Homo sapiens: one gene and its partners. The protein of the gene in region 1 interacts with the protein of each later gene in a pairwise test. Each region holds a gene or a part of one and is shown on either strand. Other genes may lie near its edges. The genes, in order: PKP2, SPTA1, NDEL1 and CCDC120.

Evidence for each region.
Region 2: the proteins of PKP2 (region 1) and SPTA1 interact in binary tests that used the Homo sapiens proteins (3 or more experiments, as listed by UniProt).
Region 3: the proteins of PKP2 (region 1) and NDEL1 interact in binary tests that used the Homo sapiens proteins (3 or more experiments, as listed by UniProt).
Region 4: the proteins of PKP2 (region 1) and CCDC120 interact in binary tests that used the Homo sapiens proteins (3 or more experiments, as listed by UniProt).

Annotation. Positions count from the first base shown.
Region 1 is NC_000012.12:32,872,756-32,879,781, reverse strand, and holds part of PKP2 (plakophilin-2), read left to right. Parts: intron 1-749; coding exon 750-862; intron 863-1,238; coding exon 1,239-1,936; intron 1,937-7,026. UniProt on the Homo sapiens protein: A component of desmosome cell-cell junctions which are required for positive regulation of cellular adhesion.
Region 2 is NC_000001.11:158,683,706-158,690,613, reverse strand, and holds the start of SPTA1 (spectrin alpha chain, erythrocytic 1), read left to right. Parts: upstream 1-3,898; 5' UTR 3,899-4,096; coding exon 4,097-4,120; intron 4,121-5,266; coding exon 5,267-5,506; intron 5,507-6,908.
Region 3 is NC_000017.11:8,459,858-8,466,883, reverse strand, and holds part of NDEL1 (nuclear distribution protein nudE-like 1), read right to left. Parts: intron 6,876-7,026; coding exon 6,724-6,875; intron 3,565-6,723; coding exon of another isoform or gene 3,530-3,564; intron 1-3,529. UniProt on the Homo sapiens protein: Required for organization of the cellular microtubule array and microtubule anchoring at the centrosome. May regulate microtubule organization at least in part by targeting the microtubule severing protein KATNA1 to the centrosome.
Region 4 is NC_000023.11:49,061,982-49,069,007, reverse strand, and holds part of CCDC120 (coiled-coil domain-containing protein 120), read right to left. Parts: 5' UTR 6,967-7,026; coding exon 6,904-6,966; exon of another isoform or gene 6,891-6,903; intron 6,774-6,890; coding exon 6,683-6,773; intron 6,541-6,682; coding exon 6,407-6,540; intron 5,148-6,406; coding exon 5,007-5,147; intron 4,639-5,006; coding exon 4,344-4,638; intron 3,973-4,343; coding exon 3,910-3,972; intron 3,555-3,909; coding exon 3,380-3,554; intron 3,262-3,379; coding exon 3,163-3,261; intron 1,833-3,162; coding exon 918-1,832; coding exon of another isoform or gene 896-917; exon of another isoform or gene 465-895; coding exon 350-464; 3' UTR 1-349. UniProt on the Homo sapiens protein: Centriolar protein required for centriole subdistal appendage assembly and microtubule anchoring in interphase cells. Together with CCDC68, cooperate with subdistal appendage components ODF2, NIN and CEP170 for hierarchical subdistal appendage assembly.

The DNA of each region.
Region 1 (7,026 bases):
TCAGCTTCACTGCAACCTCCACCTCCTGGGTTCAAGCGATTCTCCTGCCACAGCCTCCCGAATAGTTGGGATTACAGGTGCCTGCCACCACGCACAGCTAATTTTTTGTAGTTTTAGTAGAGAGGGGCTTTCACCATGTTGGCCAGGCTGCTCTTGAATGCCTGACCTCGGGTGATCCACCCACCTCTGCCTCTCAAAGTTCTGGGATTACAGGTGTAAGCCACCGTGCCCAGCCAAAACTTTCTTTTTGAGACAGAGTTTCACTTTTGTTGCCCAGGCTGGAGTGCAATTGTGTGATCTTGGCTCACTGCAACCTCTGTCTCCCGAGTTCAAGTGATTCTCCTGCCTCAGCCTCCTGAGTAGCTGGGATTACAGATGCCCGCCACTATGCCCAGCTAATTTTTGTATGTTTAGTAGAGATGGGTTTCGCCATGTTGGCCAGGCTGGTCTTGAACTCCTGACCTCAGGTGATCCACCTGCCTCTGCCTCCCAGAGTGCTGGGATAAGAGGCGTGCGCCACCACACCCAGCTGAAAAACTTTTGTAGAGAATGTTTTGATAACCTTTGATCACTTGCCATATCCCAGGGTGGTGTGAAACTAGCATTTAAAAACATTAACGTACGTTTAATACTTGTTCTTGGCCTTCATTACTTAAATTTAAAAGTTTAATACATCATTGTTATACAGTCTGTAAATATTAATTAGCCTACTTGTATTCTGAGTTATTTTAATATTTGCTTGATTGCAGGAAATCTTCACCGAACCAGCAGTGTTCCTGAGTATGTCTACAACCTACACTTGGTTGAAAATGATTTTGTTGGAGGCCGTTCCCCTGTTCCTAAAACCTATGACATGCTAAAGGTAGGATATCAAAGAATGTAACCCTAGTGATCAGATTACTACCATGAAAATATTTTCAAACTTCCTAAGATTATTTTTGAGTGTTTACTTTTCCCAAGTATTATCATTTCCTAAATGAGTTTTGAGAAAATTGATATTTATGAGGATACCATGGAAAACTAGGGATGTGAAACATTCTTACATCCTAGTGCAAATAAATATGACTCAAGTCAACCAAGTCTTATTTTCAAAAAGCCTTTACCCAGAAAGGGGCAAACTTCTCGTCATCTGATTCAGAGAAACGGACATGTTGGGTAATAGTCCCAGAGTAATTAGTCCTCAGCAAAGTTGAAATTTGATTTATGCCCCCTTTAAACTTTATTTCTCTCATGTGCAGGCTGGCACAACTGCCACTTATGAAGGTCGCTGGGGAAGAGGAACAGCACAGTACAGCTCCCAGAAGTCCGTGGAAGAAAGGTCCTTGAGGCATCCTCTGAGGAGACTGGAGATTTCTCCTGACAGCAGCCCGGAGAGGGCTCACTACACGCACAGCGATTACCAGTACAGCCAGAGAAGCCAGGCTGGGCACACCCTGCACCACCAAGAAAGCAGGCGGGCCGCCCTCCTAGTGCCACCGAGATATGCTCGTTCCGAGATCGTGGGGGTCAGCCGTGCTGGCACCACAAGCAGGCAGCGCCACTTTGACACATACCACAGACAGTACCAGCATGGCTCTGTTAGCGACACCGTTTTTGACAGCATCCCTGCCAACCCGGCCCTGCTCACGTACCCCAGGCCAGGGACCAGCCGCAGCATGGGCAACCTCTTGGAGAAGGAGAACTACCTGACGGCAGGGCTCACTGTCGGGCAGGTCAGGCCGCTGGTGCCCCTGCAGCCCGTCACTCAGAACAGGGCTTCCAGGTCCTCCTGGCATCAGAGCTCCTTCCACAGCACCCGCACGCTGAGGGAAGCTGGGCCCAGTGTCGCCGTGGATTCCAGCGGGAGGAGAGCGCACTTGACTGTCGGCCAGGCGGCCGCAGGGGGAAGTGGGAATCTGCTCACTGAGAGAAGCACTTTCACTGACTCCCAGCTGGGGTAAGTCCCCTCCTGACTCTGCAGTTCAGTCATTGCCAGCACATTCTGTTCCCACAGCCCTGACAGCATGAGCTGGCACTTCTGGGGCTTGAGAGAAGGGCTTCCAGAGATAAGTGATTAAAATAATGACTTTTCAGGCAGCTGCCTAATTGACAGATCAGCCTATTTACCTCAGGGACAGGGGCCAAGCTACCTGCTCACATGGCAGCTTTGTATGGAAATGTGACATTTAGTCCATCTGTTCCAGATTAGATGCTGGCTGAAGGGACCCTACCCCTCAGCCATATGAAAATCTGCTCTAAACTCCAAAGTAGGCCAAGAATTGGAGAATTGCATGCGTATTTTCTTCATCATCCCATGAAATAAAAGGAAAAAATGCTTATTCTTAGCACGAATGCCATTTGGATAACTATGACTGTAAAAAGAGCTAAGGAAAGATGGCTGACTTCTAGATGTCTTTTTTCTTCCTTTGGTACTTGGTACCTTTTAGATTTCTAGTGTCAGTGATTTGAAGGGGTATTCTTTTGGCAGTATTAAATTATTAAAATAACTGAATTTTTAAGTCATTCCTTTCCATTCCTATTTACTTTATAGCTTGACTAATTTAGTGTTTGGAACTTAACCCTTATTCAAGTTTAATGCCTGATCACAAATTTTATAAACTGTGCACGTTACTAAGAGAAAGATTGAGAAATGGATGGCTGATTAGATCAGTAACTCCTGCAATAATGATCTAACATCATTAGGCTAAAACATTAGATATGTTATTGTCATTTGATTGCTAAAGTTGTCTAATGATAGTTGTTACCTCTAAACATCCCTTCAAGTGAAATTGTACAGCATGCTCACTGACCAGGTAGCATCATTAATAAACTACTTCTCAAAATGATGAGGGCTAATCTAATCTTAACACAGGAAATATTTTTTATGATGTAAAATTCACCATGAGATTTCTAACATTTCTTATAGTAAGCAGACCTTAGGCAATATGAGCATACTTACAAAGAGGAAAAATAAGCCGGGAGCAGTGGCCCAGGCCTGTAATCCCAGCACTTTGGGATGCCCAGGCGAGCGAATCACTTGAGTTTAGGAGTTCAAGACCAGCCTGGGCAACATGATGAAACCCCATATCTACGAGCAATACAAATATTAGCTGGGTGTGGTTGTGTGCACGTGTGGTCCTAACTACTCGAGAGGCTGAGGCGGGAGGATTACTTGAGCCCAGGAGATGGAGGTTGCAGTGAGCCAAGATTTGTGCCACTGCACTCCAGCCTGGGGAACACAGTGAGACCTTGTCTCAAAAAAAAAAAGAGAAAGTGTATCAGGTCATTGTTTATGGAGGAAAAAGCTGATAAAGGCTTTTAAACAGGTAATTCAAAATTTATGGAATGCCTACCATAGCCTAGGATTTGTGATAGCCACAGTTTTAGCAAAATGATTTTAACAGTAACAAAATTATTATCTGACATCCTCCAACAACTGGCATTCTCTCCCTCCATCTCTGTGTCCCTTGCTTCTTGAACCACCCTGTCACTTCCCAGTCTCTCGTCAACCCACTGCAATATGATTTCAGTCCCCTCCATTCCACCTAAACAGTCTCCTGACAAATGTAGCAATGATGGCCTTATCTGCTACATCCTAAGCAGACACTATATTGAGTAATATAAGCACTGCTTATATTACTCAACCTGTGGGTGGTGTTTGAGACACCATGAAATTCTCTCATCCCTTGGTTTTCAGGGCACCAGCTTCCCCTGGTTTTCCACTCACCTCTCCAGCCATTCTTTGTTAGTGTTCTCTGCGTGCTCCCTTTCTGCCTGCTCAAAGAAGGCATCTTCAGTAACCCTTCTATTCCAAGTCTTGATGCTCTTCCAGAGAGGCTCTGTGTACCTCACTTTTATCCTTATGGTTCTCAAAGTTTTGTCTGCAATTCCATCCTTGATGCCAAATTCTGGACCTATATGAAAATGTAACAACCTCCTGGAAATTTCACACTCAGTATATCCTAAACTAAACTCATCATCTCCCTATCCTCAACTTCCACCCATCTCCTCCTGCTGTAGTCTACTATTTTCAAACCTGGAAGTCATTCTTATCTTCTCCCTCTGTAGTCACCTATCACCAAGCCATATTTTTCCTTCTATGATGGGTCTTGAATTTTTACCCTTCTTTCCATTTCCATTACACAGGGCTCTCTGCCTCTGGTCTTGCTCAGTCAGAACCGTTCTCTAGGACTGTCAGAATTATCTTTCCACATGTGATTGTTTATAACCCTTCCATAATTCCACTAAGTGTTCATGCTTTTAGGCATGACCTACAAGCCCCATTGTGTTTTCAGCTCTGCTTATCACTTCAGCCTCTTCTCCTTCTACTCTTCTCTGCCATTCATCACCACCATCCCCAAACATACCCACATACCAATACCCAAACCACCTGGAACCTCTTTACTTTCCTTAATGCAAGATATTTATCCATATTCATTCTCTCTCTCTTTCCTTCTTTTCCCCCACTCCACACCTTTACATATGCAGCTCTACTTTTGTCTGACTACTTATAATTCTGGATTTAGCTCAGATACCACCTATTTTCTGACCACTTCCTTCCCAGTCTAGCTTAGGTGCCCCAGATAGCAGCCTTGTGTGAGTGTCTCTATCAGAAAAATATATTGTGGCTATTCATTTGCTTATCTGTTCTCCCTCTGGACTTTGAGATTTTTGTGAATGCTCAATCATCTTTATATTCTCAGCACCCTAAAATGGAAGTAGGCCTATAGTAGGCACTGTATAAATATATGATGAGGCCAGCACAGTGGCTCACATCTGTAATCCTAGCACTTTGGGAGGCCCAGGCTGGAGGATCGCTTGAGCCCAGGAGTTTGAGACCAGCTTGGGCAAAATAGGGAGACCCCGAGACCCCACTTCTATTAAAGATAAACAACTTAGCCTGGCGTGATAGTGCCCACCTGTGGTCCCAGCTACTCCGGAGGCTGAAGTGGGAGGATTGCTTGAGCCAGGGAGGTTGAGGCTACAGTGAGCTGTGATTGTGCCACTGTACCCCAGCCTGGGCAACAGAATGAGATCTTCTTTCAAAAAATAAGTATATGGTGAAAGAGTGAAGGAATTAAAGGAAGGAGAAATGAAATATAAATTTTACTTTTTGCCATCTAGGTTCTTTTGTTGCTCAAATTCTAGAAGTATTAGTCATACTATTTTTGGATTATTGTTTTAATAGACAGGGTAAATTGTATTATAATATTTAATCATATTTCCAAGAGTAGAAGGAACACTTGGGGTCAAGAAATTTAAAAATAATGAGTAAGAAATCTCTTCCTGAGATTTCCCCAAATTCTAGAGAGTAGAAATCATAGAAATCAACTTTTTTTCTCTGATTATGAAAGGAAAATTTGGCTCTCTGTGAAAAGGAGAGGGAGCCAGACGTATTTTGTGTAATGAGGAAGATAGATGCCCAAGGTGGTGCCTGTGCCTGTCTGACCTCCCCCTTTCCTCTGCTGGGCTCCACGCCTCATTTCAGTTCCCCAGGCTGCTCCCTGGGACACCTGCCCTGAGACCACACACTGTGTTCTCTTTGGTCCCGCATTGTCAAACTTTGTCCAGCCCTTTTTTGGGGGGGATTTAAGTTTTTATGCCTAGTGAAACTCCCACATGTAAAGGAGTATTCTTTCATATATGTTGAATATTAACTGGACAAAACCATAAACCTGCATAATGACTTAAGGTATTAAACAATGGACCTGGCTTTCCAAAAGAAGAATGGCTGGTTAAACAGTTACTAATGCAGCTAAAAACTGAGACTTGGAGTGTGAGAGAGACAAACTGATGAAACCGATGTTCTAAATCAAACTGATGAAAAAGGTTTTTAAGAATCACCACAAAAAAAATTATAGATGAATTTTTCTAAAACCATGATTTATGACCAGTTGGAGGCTGATGGTTCTGCAAATGAGTAGTAGGATCTTCATAGGTCCTTCCCAGTAAGCATCACAAAAGATGAAAATGGGCCGGACGCGGTGGCTCACGCCTGTAATCCCAGCACTTTACGAGGCCGAGGTGGGCGGATCACTTGAGGTCAGGAGTTTGAGACCAGCCTGGCCAACATGGTGAAAACCCGTCTCTACTAAAAATACAAAAGTTAGCCAGGCATGGTGGTGGATGCCTGTTATCCCAGCTACTCAGGAGGCTGAGGCAGGAAAATTGCTTGAACCCAGGAGGCGGAGGTTGCAATGAGCTGGTATCGTGCCATTGCATTCCAGCCTGGGCGAAGGAGCAAGACTCAGTCTCCAAAATAATAATTAAATAAATAAAAGATGAAAATTGAGTGAGATGTATGATGGTCTAGGAGAGGAGCAGTGAAAAATAGGATATATCATCAAGTGCTAGGTTGTGTGATACATATTAGTGTCTACAGAAATTTAAAGAACACAAGAGCAGGGCCGGGCATGGTGGCTCACACCTGTAATCCCAGCACTTTGGGAGGCTGAGGCTGGCAGATTGCTGGAGCCCAGGAATTTGAAACCAGCCTGGGCAACATGGCAAAACCCCACTTCTACAAAGTACAAGAATTAGCTGGGCATGGTGGTGCATGCCTGTAGCCCCAACTACTCAGGAGGCTGAGGCAACAGAATCACTTGAGCCTGGGAGGTCCAGGCTGCAGTCAGCCATGATCGTGACACTGCACTCCAGCCTGGGCAACAGAGTGAGACCCTGTCTCAAAGCAAAACAAACAAAACCCACAAGAGCATCGTGCTCTGGGATTAGTTGAGGGAGACTAAGCAGAGAGGGTGGATCTTCTCTAGGATTGACAGTCAAATTTGTGACCAAGAGCACTGCAGAGCAGAAAACAGATCATATTGACTTCCCTCCACGTCCTCTTAATTACTACCTGCTTTAGTTCTTTAATTTTTCATCTCTTTCAACTCTACCTTTTTTTTCCATTTCCATTTTTAACAGCCCAGTTCAAGGCTTTTTTGCCTCAGCTGAACCTTTTATAGTGCCCTCAACGCTGTCTCTCTTTCAAGAAACACATATCCATTCCAGAGTCATCTTTCCAAAGCATTGCTTTCATCCTACTTT
Region 2 (6,908 bases), on another chromosome or scaffold:
TGGTGCATGCCTGTAATCCCAGCTACTAGGGGGGCTGAGTCAGGAGGATCACTTGCACCTGAGAGGCAGAGATTGCAGTGAAGTGGGATCGTGCCACTGCACTCCAGCCTGGGCAACAGAGTGAGACTCCAACTCAAAAAACAAAACAAAACAAAACAAAACAAAACAAAACAAAAACCAACCAACCAAACAAACAAACACTATGATTCTTATACACTTTTTTTTCTAATGTGGTGAGAAACAACATGAGATCTATCCTCTTAACACATTTTGAAGTGTACAATACTGTATTGTTAACACTTATACAATGTGTTGTACAGCACAGCTCTAGAATTCAATCATCTTTCATGGATAAAACTTCATACCTACTTAATACCTATTTTTCCTTCCCTCAGCCTCTGACAAGCACTATTTACTCTGTTTCTATGAGTTGGACTATTTTATATACTTCCTATAAGTGGTATCATGCAGTATTTGTCCTTCTGTGACTGGCTTATTTCACTTAGCATAATTTCATCAAGGTTCACTCATGTTGTCATATGTGACAGGATTCCATTTGTTATTATGACTGAATTATTTCAATTGTATGTACATGCCACTTTCATCAGTCATAGACATTTCAATTGTTTCCATTTCTTGACTTTTGTTAATAGTGCTGAGATAAACATAAAAGTGCAAAAGTGCAAATACCTCCTTACAATCCTGATTTTAATTCTTTTGGCTGTATACCCAGAAGTGGGACTGCTAGATTGTATGATAGGTCTATTTTTCGTTTTTAGGCAATGCTACACTGTTTTCCACAGTGGCTGCACCATTTTACATTTCTATCAACAGTGTACAATTGTTCCAACTTCTTCATATTTTCAGCAATACTTATTTTTCTATTCCTTTGAGAGTAGCCATCCTAACAGATGTGAGATAATATCTCAGTATCGCTTTGATTTGCATTTTCCTGATAGTGATGTTGAGCACGTTTTCTTATACCTGTTAGCCAATTGTATGTCTTCTTTGGAAAATCATCTGTTCAAGTCCTTTGCTCATTTTCTAATTTTCGTTTTTGTTATAGATTTGAAGAAGCTCCTTGTATATTTTGGATTTTAACCTCTTGTTAGATGTATGCAAATATTTTCTTCCATTCCATAAGAGAACTTTTTTTATTGCTTATTGTTTTCTTTGCTGTGCAGAAGATGTTTAGTTTGATGTAGTCCAATTTGTTTATTTTTGCTTTTGTTGCATTTGTTTCTGGTACCGTATCCAAGAAGTACTTGGCAAGACCAAACAGATCACTTTGCTCTGATGCCTGAGCAGCAGCTGAGGCAAGCTGTTCAGTGCTGATTAAACTACTATGTAAAGTACAAACCCTCCCTGAGGTGATAACCATGGCCAGATACAACAGCCCTCCAAATTATCCCCATCCTTTTAAAACTGTATAAAATACTAAATATATAATTCTTATTATATATGATAAAAGTCATAAAGCTTTTTCCTTGTGTTTTTTTTTTTCCAGGAGTTTTACAGTTTCAGGTTGTAATTTAAGTCTTTAATCCCATTTGAGTTGATTTTTGTACATAACATAAGGGTCCAATTTCATTTTTTTATGTGAATATGCAATTTTTCCAACACATATGTTGAAAAGACACTTTTATTTCCTTATGATCAGTTCTGCTGATTGGGCCATGCTATTTCTTTTTTTTTAAAATAAACATTATAGAATTAGTAAGCATTTTTACTTTCTTTTTATTGTGATGATTTTACTTTAGTTCTAGGACACATATGAAGAACATGCAGGTTTGTTACATAGGTATACACATGCCATGGTGGTTTGCTGCACCCATCAACCCGTCATCTACATTAGGTATTTCTCCTAATGCTATCCCTCCCCTATCCCACCACCCCCGCAACAGGCTTCAGGGTGTGATGTTTCCCTCCCTGTGTCCATGTGTTCTCATTGTTCAACTCCCACTTATGAGTGAAAACATGTGGTGTTTGGTTTTCTGTCCTTGTGATAGTTTGTGGAGAATGATGGTTTTCAGCTTCATCCATATCCCTGCAAAGGACATGAACTCATCCTTTTTTATGGCTGCATAGTATTCCATAGTGTATAGGTACCACATTTTCTTTATCCAGTCTTTCACTGATAGGCATTCAGGTTGGTTCCAAAGGGCTAATATCCAGAATCTACAAGGAACTTAAACAAATTTACAGGAAAAAAACAAATGACCCCATCAAAAAGTGAGCAAAGGATATGAATAGACACTTCTCAAAAGAAGATATTTATGCAGTCAGCAAACATATGAAAAAAAGCTCATCATAACTGGTCATTAGAGAAATGCAAATCAAAACCACAATGAGATACCATCTCATGCCAGTTAGAATGGCGATCATTAAAAAGTCAGGAAACAGCAGATGCTGGAGACAATGTGGAGAAATAGGAATGCTTTTACACAGTTGGTGGGAGTGTAAGTTAGTTCAACCATTGTGGAAGACAGTGTGGCAATTCCTCAAGGATCTAGAACCATAAATACCATTTGACCCAGCAATCCCATTACTGGCTATATACCCAAAGGATTATAAATCATTCTACTATAAAAACACATGCACACATATGTATATTGTGGCACTATTCACAATGGGCCATACTATTTCTTTGGTCACAAGGTTATCACATGTTTGGCATTCTTGCTAAGATGATTCTGGAACAGGGAAACAGAACAAATAATGTTGATGGACTAAGAGAAGATTGACTAAAAAAATAAGGAGCAGAGTGCCATGATAATCATATTGATATGGATTTGACTATTTAAATACTTTCAAACCAAATCACCATAGAATGAAACTTTGTTTTTTAGGGACTGTTTTCTCACATAAAGACGGGTATGATAATACCTGCCTCACAGAATTTTTAAAGATTAGAAATTAATGTAAATTGATCATGTTAATATATAAATATTTCATAGATGTTGATTCTTTTCTCTTAAAGATAAAATAATTTCCTCTCCTTATCCCAACTTCAGACAAATATTCCTCAGTGCATGTGTTATAGTGCAGTCTCTAAAATTATGTTCCTGCCTTTACTACTAAATTTGACTTGAATATAATGAAACTATATGGAAAAGTAAAGTAATCCAGACTTTCAAGAAGAGAATGTAAAGGACTCTCAGTTTTTCTATGTGAGATCCAAGAACAGGGGAAACCACAAATGTAGAATCAAAATCTTCTCTTGTAGATCATGGAAGTTAGATTATTCAAGCTGCATTTACACTGGAATGAAGTTTGGCATGGATAGCCCCACTGGCTTGTAGAAAGGTCTAAGAGCATCCCACTATTTTCTTTTTGCTTGTTTGTTTCATTTTTGTAAGTTAGTCTAAAATAACTATGCCTATGGAAAAAGTCTACCTCTTTTTGTTCTCCATTAAAATTAATACATACAGTAGGATGATTTATACCATATATATCAGAAGTCAGCCATATTTTCAACTTTTTTGTGACATCATTGGTTTGTCAAATAAGGTATCCTAATTTTTGTTTTACAAAATATTAATGAACACATCATATAACTTTTTTTGTTCCTTCCATTTAAATGATTAAGAGTACAACTAAATCAGATTTTTAAAGACCAAATTGTTGAGGTTAGGAATAAAATCTTATTTTGTGAAAGACTCTCTAGAAAAAGCCAGGATAATTCGTTGACTTAAAGACTGTGAAAAATCTGCAGTTGAGTTGGATGAAGTTGTTGAGCTGTATTTCCTATAAATATATGGGGTTTTTTTTCTAATTTTTCATCCAAAAACCTTACTTTCATTTTTTAAGTCTTATTGAGTAACTTTGAAAGCCAGAGCCTCCCAAAACTGCTGAGTCACCCAGTATCTGTAAAACTTAGCAGTTGCCTCAGCTGAGTATGTCTTCTAAAGATAATGTCGATTGTGTATGGCTGATGGGATTCTAGGACCAAGCAAGAGGTTTTTTTTTTTCCCCCACATACTTAACGTTTCTATATTTCTATTTGAATTCGACTGGACAGTTCCATTTGAATTATTTCTCTCTCTCTCTCTCTCTGACACATTTTATCTTGCCAGGTTCTAAACCTTTAGGAAAAATGGAGCAATTTCCAAAGGAAACCGTAAGTACATATTTCTCTTCCATGCAATTTGTCATTAATATTATTAGGAAAGATGTTTCCTTTAAACTTTCTATACTATCTTTCCCAGGAACATTAATAATTATTTGGCTTTTAACAAATAGATAATTTTACTTTTAACTATTTTTTGTGAACAATAACCTTGAGCTTATGTCTGTGCAGCACCAAGACCCAGTAATGACTTAAGTCGGTTCCCAGAGAGAATAAGTAGGGAGATTGAAGCTAAATAACACCTAGTAACAACGTGAGTCTCCATGTAATGATCTAATTCTATAGCCATGCCAGTAATGGCAATTCACAGAGTAGCAATTATACTTAGGAGGAATAATGGGAGATTAAAATTTAAACTCTATATTAAACATTTTGGCTGAGGTAAGCTAGGGAAAATGGTATCCATATCCAGAAGAATGAAGGTGAACCCTATGGTGATTTTGCTGGATATTGTCACAAACAGGTTGGCTCCCACTCTGGGAAAAGGATACTTATATATTGTTTTAGAGTAAAAGTTTTTATATTTCAAAAATAAATTGCAGACATGCTAATAATTTGAAATTTGTGACAATTGGGCAGAAGATAGCTGAACTTTTGATTTATAGTGTTTGTGAGTAAAGCAAGTAAAGAGTAAATATATGAGATTTATTTTTAAGTATGAAGGAAACAAAATTTTCAAACTGTTGCATATATCATTAACTAAATTAATTGCAAGCCATTCTTAATTATTTATTAAATTAAGTTAAAAATAATAAGCACTTCTCAACACCTTTTTAGCCCTTGAAAGCAATAACATTATATTTCTTTTTATCTATCTGAAATTATGTGATTTTGCTGATTTAAACTTGCTCCATGATCAGTCCAATATAATTATATCTATAGAACTTAAATGCTAGCACAAATTTATGTAAAAAGTGAGGAGAGTCTTCTGGATAATCAAGAATTTTTAACCTAAACAGAAGCTATGTCTGGTTAAAAATTACGTAAATATACTACAGCTCTTCTGACAATAGTCCCTAGAAACTTCAGGATATCTGAATATAGGTCCAACATGAGTAAACACCTTGACACATATAAGCGGGGCAACATGTTAAATATTTGAGAACTAGCAAGTAACAGAATCTTTTTAACTTGCAGGTTGTGGAGAGCAGTGGGCCAAAGGTTTTGGAAACAGCAGAAGAGATCCAGGAGAGGCGTCAGGAAGTGTTGACTCGGTATCAAAGTTTCAAGGAGCGGGTCGCTGAGAGGGGTCAGAAGCTTGAGGATTCCTATCACTTACAAGTTTTCAAGCGAGATGCAGATGATCTGGGGAAGTGGATCATGGAGAAAGTCAATATCTTAACCGATAAGAGCTATGAAGACCCAACTAATATACAGGTCACTCAGTTCTCTTGATTGCCTCAGAGCAGACCCTAAGATCTCTAGAGAAGGAAATAGGTTTTTCTTTATGTTAATGTTAATGGGTATGTGTGGGTACAATTAGATTCCGTTTAGAAACAAAAATAAGTCAGTGGAGTGGGAAGTTAAAGAAATAAATTAATAGAAAATCTAAAAGTGCATTTTCCCTTATGAAGTTGGAGAGGTGAGACTGAGAAAATAAGAATCAAACAAAAAGCAGCAGTTTTTCAGTTGTTGAAAGCACAGAACTGTTTTTTACAATGAACTTCCATTCAGAATATACATTTTTTAATCATTAACCAAGGATATTGCTTATTGATAAGGGCATAGGATACTTTACATATTTTCATGGTGAAGCATTCATCAATGCCAAAAGTAAAAAATTACATCAATTTTTTTTCAGATCCAGCACAAATATTATGGTAATGTAAGTGTATATCTGGTTAATTGTAGTGGGAGTGATGTAATGGAAAAATTAGACTGTCTGTTAGAAACAGTAATTCTGCCTCTAAATAGTCCATGTCTTCATCTTCATAAACATCGGGGTGTTATTTGCAAAGGAGATTTATTCTGTATAGAATTTGATGGTTACAATACTCATCTGAAATTGACCTACAGGCAAAACAGCAACTGCAAATTCAAGAAATTTCTGACAAACCATGTGATTTTTGATATTTTGGGACATTAAGAAGGGAAATAGGGTGAAGAGTCATCAATGCTTCTGAAGCAACTGTCCTCCACTCTTCTCAGAAATATAAGAGTTAACCAGGTTAACTAAAATCCAATTTAGTTAACCTGGTTAACTCAATTGCTATTCATGGCTCTTAAGTTTTTCCTAAAATGTTGTTCATGGGTCTCAAGTTCTAATGAGAGGTTTCAGTAGAAGTTTGGTGAAAGCTCCTACGCGTTTCTGATCACCTAAAATTATAGCATGTGATACCTGTTCTCTACTCTTCTCAGAGAGATGAGTTAACCAGAGTTTTTTTTTTTTCTTCCCTAAATTGCTATTCATGGCTCTTAACTTCAAAAGAGAGGTTTCAGTAGAAGAAATTTGGTGAAAGTGCCTACCCCTTTCTATTCACCTAAAATTATAGCATGTGGTGTTGTCATAATCAGAAGCAATTGATGTTGGACAGGAAACACCTAGAACAAGAGCAAAATAATGTGCTATATTGAATGGATCAATTTATAGATTACAAGAACAGGCACAGCATGCAAAAAAAACTCTCAATTTTTTTTTTTAAAAACCATTATTATAACTATCATCTTTCTCATTGTGCTCTACTTCCAAAAAAAAATCAGTTATTCCTCTTTTCTGATGAGGAAGGACACTGTGTGTTACACTCTTTTATTCCTATGGCAGTCTATTGAGCCTTTAAAA
Region 3 (7,026 bases), on another chromosome or scaffold:
AACTCATTTAAAATCACTCACACACAATAGGAAATTAATCTGCTTTCTAAAACTATTCCTCGCAGGCTGTAGGGTCCTGATGGCCCAAGGGGCACTGGCTGCCTGGAAAGCACCAGCTGGTTAGAGAATTGAGCCTTTGGGAATCCTGGGGAACCAGGACCACATGACCTGTTTGGCAACTGCCGCACACTGGCCACGGAAGCCACAGTCCTGATTCTTTCCCCATAAAGCAGGTCTAAATGCCTGGCAATAGGGAACTAGTTAAATAAATAATGGTACAACTGAACAATAAGATATTGCACAGCCATTAAAAACACATTCCACAAGTTTTTTAATAGCATGGGAAAATATTCAGAATGTAACTAACACTAAGTGGAAAAAGATGCAGGTTACCAAACTCTGTAGATTCAATGATATGAAAGAAAAAAAAGCAAATAGTATATATTCTAGATTCTAGACTATAGCCCCTTAGATAGACATTACTATCCATGCAGCTAAATCCACAAAGCAGGGACAGAGGGGGAGTGTGTATAAATAAATGTATATATACATACATTATATATACGCATACACATATATATATACACACACCAACATATATGTACATAGGATCATATATATCATAAAAAGAAAATTTAAGAATCGTTACTTTTCTTCCCTCTGGGCTGTGGGTGAATTTTGTTTACTACTTTATCCTTTTTTAATCATTTTCCAAATCTCCTTACATTTTCCAAATATAATGTATTAATACACGAATATCTTAATAAGGTGGAGAAAAATAACCTTTTAAAAATTGTTTAGCAAGCAACGCCAGATGAGTAGGCTTTTCAACGCAGACTCGTGTGCAGACAGCCCAGCCCAACCCAATAGCCTGCAGCCAGGACCCAGCACCCGGAGCCCAGCGACACAGGGAGCCCCCCAGCGTCCCCATCACGCACCCAGAGCCCAGCGATGCAGGGAGCCCCCCAAGCATCCCCCTCACGCACCATGCAGCGCAGCCACAGGAAGCAGCAAGAGGGGGAGGGAGTGTGCAGCCTGGAACCTCTCTCAGGAGCCACTTCAGCCTTTCCACCTTGAAACGCTTCCTAGGAAAATTTGTCCCACTAGCAATTTGGGAGATAAAGCCAACTACGACAAGGGGCCACACTGCACCACACCTGCCCACTACTGCCCCCACCTACTCATCAGACGGCTCCAGGGAGCTAAATACAGACTCATGGAGAGAGGTTCTCCTTAAAAAAAAAAAATGCCGACACACACTCCCTGCAGAGACAGCTGTTTCGTACACTGACGGGGTGAGGATAACCTCACAGACAAACAGGCATGCAGAGACTTGACAAATAGTCCCTGCCTACTTGGAAGAAACAAAGTTCATGTCTAAAGAAACTAAACTCAGAGTACATATGTGGAGTTTAAATTCCAACCACGCATACAGAGACCAAGAGCCCCAGGAGAAAGGCTCTGACAAATGTCATTTCTCCCTGTTGCACACTGTCCTACTTCGACGACAAACAGCCAGATTGTCTCTTTCCTCACTGGGTTAGGTCTGATTTTTGAGCTTCAACACATTTGCAAGTTTGAAATCATCCTTCCCACTCTCCCAAGGTCACAGGCCTGTGCCTCTTCTGGGGCCAAGGCCATATCCTATTTGCCACGGTAGCCCTCATATAATAGGCTCCATCTGTCTGGCTAGTCCCAGAGTCCCTGACACCTGCTTCTCCTAGAAACCTCAGGGACAACCAGGCAGGCCCCACAAATGCCTGCAGCTCTCAGCACGTGTGAACCTCAGATTCCTGGCCTCACACATCACAGTGGCAGGCAAGCCCCTAAACCTGTACTGCAGACAGTGCCCGGAACCCAGCAGAAAGGGAGCACCATTGGATGCCAAGAAGAATCTGGCACCTGGGCCACGGGGGTGTACAAAAGCAGCAACTAGGAGATGGCTCCTCAAGCAGGTTGAGGATGGGATTCTGGCATTTTCAAGTGCACCGTAAGGAACAACAGGTTCATCCCACTGTTCCACTGCCAAGACAACCAAAGCAAGAGAAGGTCCAGCCATTAGCCTAGGCTCACCTAGTGAGCCACTGATGGGGAAGTCGGGGCCACAGCTGCCTCCAGATGCCCAGGCCAGGACCCTTTTCTAGTCTCCTCCTGGTCAGAGGCCACCTAGCAGCCCTCAGAAGCAACCACTTCGGCACTCCAATGCAGGCCGGCTCTAATGGGAAAAGTAAGTGGTGCAGCCCAGACTATAAAGAGAGAACCGGTAAATTTCTACATGGGCAGAAATGGAACGCTTAATGTGAAGGTGGGTGGAGTAGAGAGGGAACATCAATCCACCAGGGTCTCACCTAGCGCCTCTCTCCTGACTCAAAAAGTAGAAAGTTAAAGAACAGAGAGAGAAGAAAGCTGGCCTTCTAGATGGGATGACAGGTCTAGTGAAGTCCTTCAGAGGCCTGCAAAGCTGTGCATGGGGAAAAGATTTGCAAGAGAAGAGACTCTATATTCAACAGATTCAGTTTCAGGGAGCAGCAAAGAGCCACAGGGCAATGTCCCAGTGCACAAGACAGGACTGAAGGAAGAGTGATGGGGCAGGCTTGAAGATACAGATCTGGGAATCATATATGTAAAAAAAAGGTTCCAGAGCTATAAAATTTCATGATCTTACCACCACAGACTAGTTAAGGAGGCTGAAATATAGAGAATCCAGCTAAGAAAAAGTGCTAAGGTCAGTTGTAAAATGTCAGTGGAAGAAGTGAAAAGGGGGAAGAGCCAAGGCACACTTAGAAGCTACTCAGGACAATAAATCCAAAGCAGCTGAGATGAAGGATGGAAACATTAACTCTGTCAAAGCAGCAAGGATCAGGACACTGGAGAGGGCAGGAGGGTGGGCTCAAGCTATCCAGAAGAGCCTGCAGGCAGGCACACGCCACACCTGAGTCTCCTATTTCAGTGGATGAGTGTGGGCTCAGAGCAGCTCCAGCCTGCTCCAGTTCTCAGCCCAGGCTCTGCAAACTGCAAAGCAGTTCTGAAATGTAAGGCAGATCTTACACACGTCCCCATGTACCATTCCATTTTAACTGGGGACTCCATGCGTGAGCGCAGAGGTGAGGGAATGCTCACACTGGTGCCTGACTTGAGAAAACAGAAGCAACTGGGTAACGGGAAGACCCCCAGTCCCAGGAAGACAGTCAAAGGTGATCCCAGGGCCTGACAGTGACCTCAAACCCCCATCGCCAGACTCTGAAATCAACACTACAGCGCCCTAGCCCATCTCAGGCGTGCCACCTGGCATGCTACTCCCAGCCACCCCAGGACCACTGCAACTAATTTGTTCTTGTTTCTCACAGCTGAACTAATAACGGCATACAGTCAAGTCGAACAGGACCGTGAAAGTTCACTGATGGGCTGTAAGTTGGTTAAAGCTGAGTCAGCCCCATGCAGTTAGTAAAACCAGATTGTTAATGTGTCTTCCACCACACACCAGGATTAAGAAAGAATGAAAAAGAGCACAGCAAACAAATTCAGTTACCCATGAACAACGTGGGAAATATGACTTTTTCTTGCCTAATAAAAGAAAGGAGAACATATTAAACAGTAATACGAATACTATTTCCACATCACGCCCTAAAATTAGTCCATGCCCACCTACACACAGCCCAAAAGAACTCAGAGTGGCTTACAAAAATAGAGCACATGTTACCTAAGAAACTACATAAAGTTATGGGAAAAAAAAGAGTGTTTTTGAGAGACTCCAAGCGACCACACTCCACATGAAATGTGTGTCCTTTCAGATGGTGAGACAAAGGGTGACCATGGTTGAAGGAAACAGCTCGGCACCTGGGAAGCAGGCACGGCAGCCCATGTTTCAGGAACTGGCAGAAGTGCTCACAGACTAGACAAAAACCTGATTCCAAGAAGCCCTCAAGTGACCAGAATTTACAAAATACTTTTGAATCCCACAGAGCAATACGCCCAGTTAAGGTATATTGTTTTATGTGAGAAGGCTTCACTGCATCTGAAGTTTCAGCGGGTGGGAAGGTGAACACATGTACACCCGCACACATGCACACACACACAAACCTACTTTGATGATGTCTCTCCCCCAAACAATCCTGCCGCAGGTTTCTGGCAGCACTAGTGAGCCATCACCACGGTGCTACAGACTCCTCAGGAGTGAGAGGGAGGGCAGGCAGGTTCTGCAGTGGAGGGCTTTTTCAAATGGGGCACTTTTCTCATGCTGAAACTACAAGCCATACTTCTCCACTTCTACACAGACAGGCTTTTGTGTTTTTAACCTGCCAGAGTGTATAATGGACCTGGGAAGTGGAATATCCTGCCCTTCCTTTTGCGGCTGCTACACAACATCTTGGTTTTTATCTGGTCAACAGGTTGGCAGAAGAAAAGCCAGAGGTAAAAAGCCAGACAGGCCAAAAGCCGGAATCGAAGCAAAGCGGCAAGAAAGTGAAAACACAGCAAAACCCACAAAAGAGTTATCCTCAGGAATACAGCAACTAGAAAGACAACTCCAGCAACAGTAGGTTAATATTTCAGTGCGCATACACAATCCACTTATCATATAAGCTAAACACTCACACAACAGCCAGCCCACAAAAGCATATTTCTTAATAGAAAAGGCACAATGTAAAATGTCTACCATTTAAAACCAAAACTCAGTATCTGCAACTGTTCCGATTGGGAAGCACAGCACATTTCCGGGTTCAGCTCAGGAAGTAAAGCCTACACTTACATCTCGGATGCTCTCAAGGGGCAGAGGTGCAGTCAGTGTGCCCAAGGCCTGTTCCTGGCTTCAGCTCACCCTAAGGTCCCCACATCTCCCTCAGAACAGGCTCACCTCTTGGCAATCCCTGCCCTGGTGCTCTGTCTTGGGAGGCAAGTGGCGGGCAGGAGTAGCGACCCTGAACAGACAGTGTTATCCTTCCCTCCTCGTGACTGTTCTTCAGGGCTTCCACACGCACAGGCACCTGTCCGACCTATCCATTTATGATTCACACCTGCTCTCATGAAAGGCACCTGCGGCCCATCAAGAAATACGATTCCAAGGAGAAACTAATAACTACTCTAGTAGAGGATCATTATAAGTTGTAGGGAAAAATAATTAGGCACTGCTTCCAACATTTATGAAGACTACCCTAAAAGTTCTCCATATCATTCAGGGGAAATGGCTACGCTCATGTAAAACCATCCAGTCATTCCATTTATCATTCCACTATAAAAACAAGGGCTGCCGCAAGTCTGCCTGAAACTCCTAAGCCTGAGGAAAATCAATTTTATGTTTACTCCACCCGAGGAAACCCAATGGTTAGAATAAAGTTCTGATTTCAGCTGGGCGCGGCGGCAAGCCCAGCACTTTGGGAGGCTGAGGCAGGAGGATCACTTGAGCCCAGGAGTTTGAGATCAGCCTAGGCAACAGAGTGAGACCCCCATCTCTTCAAAAGAAAACAAAAATTATTTAAACAAATTTTTTAAGAAAGAATAAAGTTCTAATTTGTATAGTGATGTTTTAGGATGTGCTTTTAATACAAAATCCTTAATGAAATGTATATTCTCCAGGGTAAAATCAGGGACAGAGATCAACCAAAACACTCCACTGCAAGGATAAGAGCCTATTCAGAGTGCACCGTGTGTCGAATCTGCTCCTTTACACATGTGCCATAATTATTGAGGACGGCAGAAAATCCCAGCTGCTTTCAGAGATTGTGAGCGTTTCTAGAGTTGTACCTGCTCTGCTTTCAGAGAAAAACAAGCAAGAATTACCTCTTTGACTCAAAGCAGAGACAGTAGCCAAGGATCACGGGTGCCTGTTGGCTGTTTCAATAACAACTACCTTAGGCAACACCGTGAGCATCCCAGGCCACGGGTCCTAATAGTGACCTATATTAAGGCATACTCATACAACCACGTATTACCATGTAGTATTTAAAAATAAATAAGTAAATTGAGGTAGAATAATATACATGACATGGAAAGATAATGGCAATAGAAGTCATGATAGGCACACTGCAAAGCAATATTTAAAGTATAATCCCGTAACTGTGTTACAAACAACTTAGAGCAGATGCATAAAAATATGATTTGGCATGCCTTGGAATAACTGTAAGGAATGCAGAAACAGTGTGAAGGCAGGAAACCATGACTTTTTAGTTCATATACTTCCATACTAACTGAAATTTTTTGCATTAAGGATGCTTCAACCTTAAAACAATTTTATTTCAATCTTCAAAAAAGCCTTAACTTTATACAAAAGTTGTATCTCCTAAACTGTATTTGATCCAGTGCCTAAGTACTTCAGGGCTTTATATTTCTCTAAAATTCTCACAGGGGATGTCTGTTGTAGAGTTTGCATATATTTAATTGTGATGCTGTCTTCTACCCCAAAAAAATATTTCCAAGTCTGCCAGCCTGTAAGCACCTGGAGAACAGGGACCTTATCGCAGTCATTTTGACTCACCAGAGCCTCACACTGCTGCCTTTCAAGAGTCTGCTTCCCAGGACAGAAGCCTCAGATTCAGGGTTCCTGGGGCAACAGACTCCATGGGGACTAGAGGACAACAACAGACGTCATGTCACCTAAGATTAGAATGATAACAGGCTTCGGGAAGGTTTGTCAAGCTGAGTTTACCTTTTCAAGGCTTCATTATGCTCACTTACTAACCTGTCACTTTACTACTCAAAAAATTATCACTTAAAACATTCAGGACTTACCCTTTGTCGAAGAAAGATGTATGCCCTGATCGAGAGAACTTTGTGCCATTGCCATTCAGCACCCCACAGTTAACATTCCCTGAAATATAGGATTTTCGTGATGCTTGGTCCTTTGCAAAATTCCTGCAAGCTGCTAATTTGGATTCTAAAGCCTACAAAAAAGAAGGAGGAATGATATGGTTGTCAAAACAGTAGCTGCACATAAAAATTTGCATTTCAAACCATTTCTATTTCAAGCCTCAAAACTTACTCATCTCAGTTGATAATGGTGGTTAGTTCAGCCATAATCAATCAACTTTCTAA
Region 4 (7,026 bases), on another chromosome or scaffold:
AGATGAGATCACAGTTTCCCTTTTGTAAAACGCCTAGTGTTGGAGGAAGACAGTGAATACCTAAGTCACAACTGTAAACATAAATGGAGGAAGGGGCTTGGGGTCCCCATGACATCATCCCCCCTCTTTTAAGCTAGCTGAGGGCCCCCAGTCCCCAGCACAGTGTGAGAGAAGAAGCAGGGTGTCAGACACCTTCCTGGGCCTACGGGGAGCCAGGGGCCTTGGAAGATTAGGTTGGCGCACTCTGCTCAGGACTGAGAGCAACCACACCCCAGGGCCCAGCGAGGTCAGCTGTGTGCTCCCCAGATTGGAATCGTGCCCAGGCCAACAAGGGACATATCAGAAGGGGTCAGACCAGTGTCCCCGGGGTCTGGGTGTCAGAACTGGAGGACTGCTCCCCCTCTAGCGTCAGGTCACTTAAACGAGCGCTCAGCTCCGGGGGATACAGGAAGTCCGCGTAGTATCTTTAGAAGGGGTAGCAGGAATCCGGAGGACAGGGCGGGGAAGACAAGAAGAAGAAAAGACAGACAAGACACAGAAAAAGAAAGGAAAAGAGGCTCGTTAAAGAGGTGGAGGCAGGCACAGGACAGCACTTTCAGGCTCTGGGGCATGGAGAAAAAAGGAAGAAAACAGCAAGGGGCATGAGATGTCCCTTCCTCCCGGCACCCTGGCTTCAAGGCTCATCTTCAGCCTATAACTTGATAAAGAATTGCTGCTACCAGTGCCCAAGATCCCCTCCACCAGGACCCCATGGACTAATGCAGGTCATGTGCAGTAGAGTGACCCTGTGCCATCACAGCAGCTAGTTTCCTCATGGTCCAATTCATTAGCTATCATGACTAGCCACTCCCTGGCCTGGATATCTTCGCCATCTGCCTTACGAGACCCCTACCCATCAGTAAAAGCACCCCCCATACCTGCCAGAGACAGGGGGCGCCGTGAAACTCCTCGAGTGTGGGAGTGGCGCCTGGCTGGGGGCCCCGTACAGCGCCTGGCCCACCTCATAGCAGCGGGCATGGAGGAAGGGTGGGTGTGGCGGGCCCACGGAAGGGAGCACAGGCCGGCGCTGGGGCCCCGCAGCCAGTCCCGAGTTCCGGATGTACCAGTCCCGCAGCCCCTCCAGAGCCAGGTTCTTGTGGCCACTGCGTTCACCAGCCGAGGGGATACGGGTGGGTGGGGGCATCCACAGCAGAGGGTTTGGATGCACCTCAGGGCCTTCGGCAGCCTCTGGGGGCAGGCCACAGGGCTTAGTGCGGGTGGCACGGGTGTGGGGGTCCTTGGTGCGGAGGAGGGGGCTGTTGCTGTCAGCTGCATACACAGGTGGTGGGCCGGGGAGCATGGTGAGGAGCCCATCCCGGCGGGAGAGGGGTCCTGGGACCTCAGCTGCAGGCGGCAGCTCCCCCCAGCCTGTTCCACCGCCACTGCGGGGCAGGCCCCGGTCCAAGGAATAGTCCAAGAGGAAGTCTCCACACACAGGTGGGAGCCGGGGGGCACCTCGGGAGGCAGGGGCAGCTGAGCTAGGCCGGGCGGCCCGGGGAGGGTCTGGGGGGCCTGCTGTGCGGGAGGAGAAGGCAGGGGTTGGTTGGGGGCGCTCATACAGCACCTCACTGCTCTTGCAGACTGGGGGGCCAGAGGCAGAGGGAGCCAGAGGGGCAGGCGGGGAGCCAGCTCCCCCACCAGCGGCCCGGTCCACCAGCAGGGCCTCAGAACTGTTGCTGCGGCGGGTGCGAGCTACGAAGAGGGAGGCGCGATCGGAGGCAGGGTCCGCCCGGGGGAAGCCCATCTGGGAGTCCTGGCTGCCGGACCACTGACGAGAATGAAGGCCTTCAGGTCTGGGGTGAGAGGCGAGGGTCATGGGAATAGGGTCAGAAAAATCAGGCAGAAGGCGTGCAGTGCCCTCCCTACCCCAGCCCTTTCTAAGCCTTCACTTTCACATCTCCAAATGGGCCCAAGGTTGGAAGCTGTGTGTATAAAGGTGGCAGGTAGTGACATGTAAAGGGCAGCTGAGGTTCTATCCTAGGCTAGGCGGTCAGGGGTAGAAATGCGTGGGGGAGGCCTGGCACTGTTAGCTCCAAGGGAGGTGTAAATCTGTGTAGGGACTCAGAGGAAAGGCTAGCAGAGTAGATGCCGGGCAGGGGGCTGTTCCTAATCCAGCTGACCCCTCCCCCTGCTAAGGCCGTTCTCATGGCTCGCACGGCCTCCAGGATTAAGTCCTAGGCCTTAGGGCTCACATGTAAAACCCTGCCTGAATTCTCTATCCGACCATACGTATGAACCACCCAAAGCTACCATCCCAACAGCCACCGTTCACAGAATGCAAGCCCCACAAGGAAGGGGACTTGGTTTTGTTCAGAGCCTGGGGAAAGTAGGCACTCTGTTTAAGAAGCAGAAGAGGACAGTGGTTAAAAGCATGGACTCTAGAGTAAAACTTGCCTGGGCTCAAACTCCAGGACTTCAGTTTACTAACAAGTTACTTAACCTTTCTGTGCCTCACTTGCCTCATCTATAAAATGGGAATAACAATAGCACCCACCTCACAGGGATCTGATTATGATTAAATGAGTTGATGCCACGTAAAACACTAATTCCTAGCAGATGGCAGGCACTCAGTATATGTTAACCAGAACTTATTATGTCCATGTCTTTCAAAGGCAGATATTATTATTTCCATTTCACAAATGAGGAGACTGACTCCTACCCCATTATCCACCGAGATGCCTGCTCACCTTTAATGCCCAGCCTCCCATGTCCCACACCTTTTGTTTTTTTGTTTGTTTTGAGACGGAGTTTCGCTCTTGTCGCCCAGGCTGGAGTGCAATGGCACGATGTTGATCTCAGCTCACTGCAACCTCCGCCTCCCGGGTTCAAGCGATTCTCCTGCCTCAGCCTCCGAAGTAGCTGGGATTACAGGCATGCCCCACCATGCCCAGCTAATTTTTGTATTTTTAGTAGAGACAGGGTTTCACCATGTTGGTCAGGCTGGTCTTGAACCCCTGACCTCAAGTAACCCGCCCGCCTCGGCCTCCGAAAGTGCTGGGATTACAAGCGTGAGCCACCGCGCCCAGCCATCCCACCTTTTGATAATGTTGTCCTCAAGCTTCCAGTGAGAACTAATGGTTCCCTCCCCTCTGATCCTCCAGCCCACCCTCAGATTCCCCTTACTTGCAGAGCTGGGGGCCAGCGCCCCGGGTGAGGACAGGGGTGGCAGGCACACTTCGCCCCTCAAAACTGGAGGCACTCCTGGGCAGCGAGCGTGTGGGGCTAGACAGAGACAGGCAGGCCTAGGTTAGAGACTGTACCCACCAGCAGACCCTCTGCCAGCCCAGGCTTGCTATCCCATTCCCAGCTCCTGCGGAGGGGAGGAGGGGCTCATTCTCACCTGGTGGGGCTGGCCACAGAGTTCCGCCGGCTCTTCAGATCCCCATAAAGATCTGATGGAGGTGGTTTCCATGGGGTTCGCCGCTCAGGGCTCCCCCCAGATACTGCCCGCAGCTGGTCCCAAGCCTTGGGTGGTGAGGGGCGCTCGGCCAGAGAGAAGCAGCCATGGGGCTCCTCTGAGTGGAAGAGAGCAAGTGGGATAGAATTCAATGAGGGGGGCCCAGAGGGGGCAGGACAGGCTGGGGGGCAAGGCCATGGGGAGGGGCAAAGTGCTGGGACAGGTTAAGCAGGCTGAGGAGGAACTAAGGCTGACAAGTAGGTTCTGGGGCTGTGGGGCTGGGGTGGGGTGAGGCTAAGAAGATGGGGGACCCATAGGAAGATGGAGCATGGCTAAGGAGAAGCTGAAGCAGCACAGGAGGGGCTGGGCATCAAAGGATGGGCTGATCATGCAGGATGTGGTCGGATGAATAAAGGGGATGGGCTAAAGGGACGTAGGAGTCGGGGGCAGGTTTGGGGGATAGGAGTCCTCACCGTTGTCATGGCTGGCCCCAGACTCTGAGAGGGAGCTGCTCTCTGAGTGCAGAACTACGTCCTCTACAGGTGAGAGGGGGAGAAGTGGGCCTCTCACTCCCAGGCCTGGGTGCTGCCCCCTTACACCACTGGGTGGGCACCTCTACTTGGGCCACCTTCTGGCCAGTTTCCGCCTCATCCTGTTCCTGTCCCAAGAATCTGCTTTTACCAGAGCCCAAGACCACCCCAGTTTGGTTCCTGACTGTCCTGGCAGATATTCATCAGTCCCCCACAGTTTGTCCTTTCCGGTAAGCCAGTTTGTCACAACTCTTCTCACGGGTTGGGCCACTTGAGTTGTGCCTACCTCCCGGTTTTCACCGGCCAGTCACCCATCCCAGCCCTACCACGTCCATTTGCCAGTGTCCACTCTCCCACCCTCACCAGGGGATGCTCACCTTGGCTGAGCTGAGCAAGACGCATGCCCAGGCAGACTCCCTGGGTGGTGATCACTGACCCCGTGGACAGTGGCAGTGGCTGGGGCAGCGGGAGCACTGGGAGGCCAAGGCGGGCCCGGACATCCCTGAGCTGCTCCTCTAGCTCATGCAGCCTCCTCAGTGCATCTGCCTGGACCTGGCGCCGGCGCCGGCGCTGCTCGGTGCTCAGATCAGGGGCCAAGGCCAGGCGGCGGGCGGCCGCCGCGATCTGCTGTTGCACTGACACCTCGCGTTCCAGGGCCTCAAGAGCCAGCTCCTGTTGGGCCCACCCAAATGTTGGAAATGGCCAGGAACAGGGACCTGGCGGGGCCAAACCCAGTAGAGGCTGGCCTGCACTTCCTGCAGCCTATTCAGACCTATTCACCCCGGGGAGGGGGCGTGTCAGGGCCTCTCTTGGTGAAGGGCTGGGTCTGTTCATCTTCCTTAGGGTTGGAGGCCTGTCCTGACAGTTAGGGACCAGCATCCTCCCTCATCACAGGAAACTAACTCCAGAAGCCCTTTTCCTTCTCATCTTAGCCTCTCCCTCACCTGGCCACAAGCCCCCTCCCCACACCTTCCTCCTGGCTACTCCTCTGTACCTGTCCCCTCTTCCCACCCTCTTGCTCTCCACACCCATCTGCTCACCTCAGCAGGGCACAAGGAGTGGTGTGCTTGGTTGGGGTGCGGTGGAGGGTAGGCGCGGGCTGTGGGGGGCCGCCGGCGGACCAACTGGGGCCGTTCACCAGGCTCTAGTGGGCACTCAGGGGGCAGCTGGCCAGTCAGCTCCTGGTGGGAGGCAGGGGTCAGAGACTACCAAGGGTTAGTTGGAAGGATGGGGTGAAGCATTAATGATCCCAGAAGCTACAGAAGTCCTACCAGGAGCCTGGCCCTGCTCAGCAACCACGCACGATACTCCCCTCCCTCCTACCAGTATCTCCACTAGGCAGGTGTGCCCAAACCTCAGTGGCCCAAACCCCTGGGGTGGTGGGCATGGGAGGCAGGGAGACCTGCTTTGGAATCCAGAATTGTTTTGTTTTTATAAAGGTGATACCATCGAGATCCTAAGTATTATATAACTCACTTCAGGGGCTGTGGCTGCGTGGTCTGAGCTGTAGTATTATTTCCGGCACACTGTGGGCATTCACAGTAAGAGGGGTAAACTGAAACTACAGATCAGCCTGTGCCAGTTCAGGTCAGACTGTGCTGCCAAATTTTGGACAGAACCTGTTTTCTGAGGTTTGTTGGATTTGAAATTGTCAACAGTGGGCCTGTATTACCATATTTTTTTTTTTTGAGGTGGAGTTTTGCTCTTGTTGCCCAGGCTGGAGTGCAATGGCGCAATCTCAGCTCACCGCAACCTCCACCTCCAGGGTTTAAGCGATTCTCCTGCCTCAGCCTCCCAAGTTGCTAGGATCACCACACCCAGCTAATTTTGCTTTTTTTTTTTTTTTTTGAGACAGAGTCTTGCTCTGTCGCCCAGGCTGGAGTGCAGTGGCGCAATCTGGGCTCACTGCAAGCTCCGCCTCCCGGGTTCATGCCATTCTCCTGCCTCAGCCTCCCGAGTAGCTGGAACTATAGGTGCCCGCCACCACGCCTGACTAATTTTTTGTATTTTTAGTAGAGACGGGGTTACACCGTGTTAGCCAGGATGGTCTCGATCTCCTGACATCGTGTTCCGCCCACCTCGGCCTCCCAAAGTGCTGGGATTACAGGCGTGAGCCACCGCGCCCAGCCTAATTTTGCATTTTTAGTAGAGACGGGATTTCTCCATGTTGGTCAGGCTGGTCTGGAACTCCCGACCTCAGGTGATCCACCTGCCTCGGCCTCCCAAAGTGCTGGGATTACAGGCGTGAGCCACAGCGCCCAGCCTATTTCATTCATTCTAACACATCTAAGCTGAGCTTTGAGGAGAAAGTAGGTGACAGGGAATCTACAGCCAAGACAAGTGGTTGAGGAATTGCCACCCAAGTCTGTCTACCTAGGGGCCCCAGCTCCTCACCTCCTCCCAACCTCCCCGCCTGATACCCCTAGGGCCAGGCCCTCACCGCCTCCTGGAGACACACTTTGCGGAGCTCCTGAAGTTTCAGGCTCAGGGCCTCCTGCAGGGTCCGCTGCCGGTCAAGCAGCCCCCGCAGACGCTCTGACTTCACCTGGGGGGCAGCCTCTCCGAACAGGGCAGCTGGACACAGAGGGAGCAAAGATCAGTGGGACAGCCAGGGCATTCTGGAGCAGCTGTGGGGCAAGGGACCAACTCTTCCCGAGCAAGCAGGTGGTGATTCAGAGCAGGGGAGGAGGCAGCAGGAGGGGAAGCAGCCACCGACCTGGGGCATTGAAGGTAGGAGAGCTGATCAGCTGACCTTTGACTTCCATCTTGGTGCTGTCGAGAGGCCGTGGCTGATGGCTGGACAAAGTCTGGCAGTGACACAAAGGAGCCGTTAAGGAAGCACATCCCATGATACCCCAACCCCCAGCCCTTCCCAGCTTCCCATGCCACAGCGGGGAATAAGGGGTAACCTGGGCCCCACGTGCCTGCTTGACCTGCCCTTTCAGAATCCGTGTGGATGTCTGGACCCACTTGGCCCTGGTACCTTGGTTCCCTTCGCATTGAGTGAGAGCACAGCAAGTGGGGAGCTGGGCGGACTTACAACGCCTCCTCAGAGGCCCA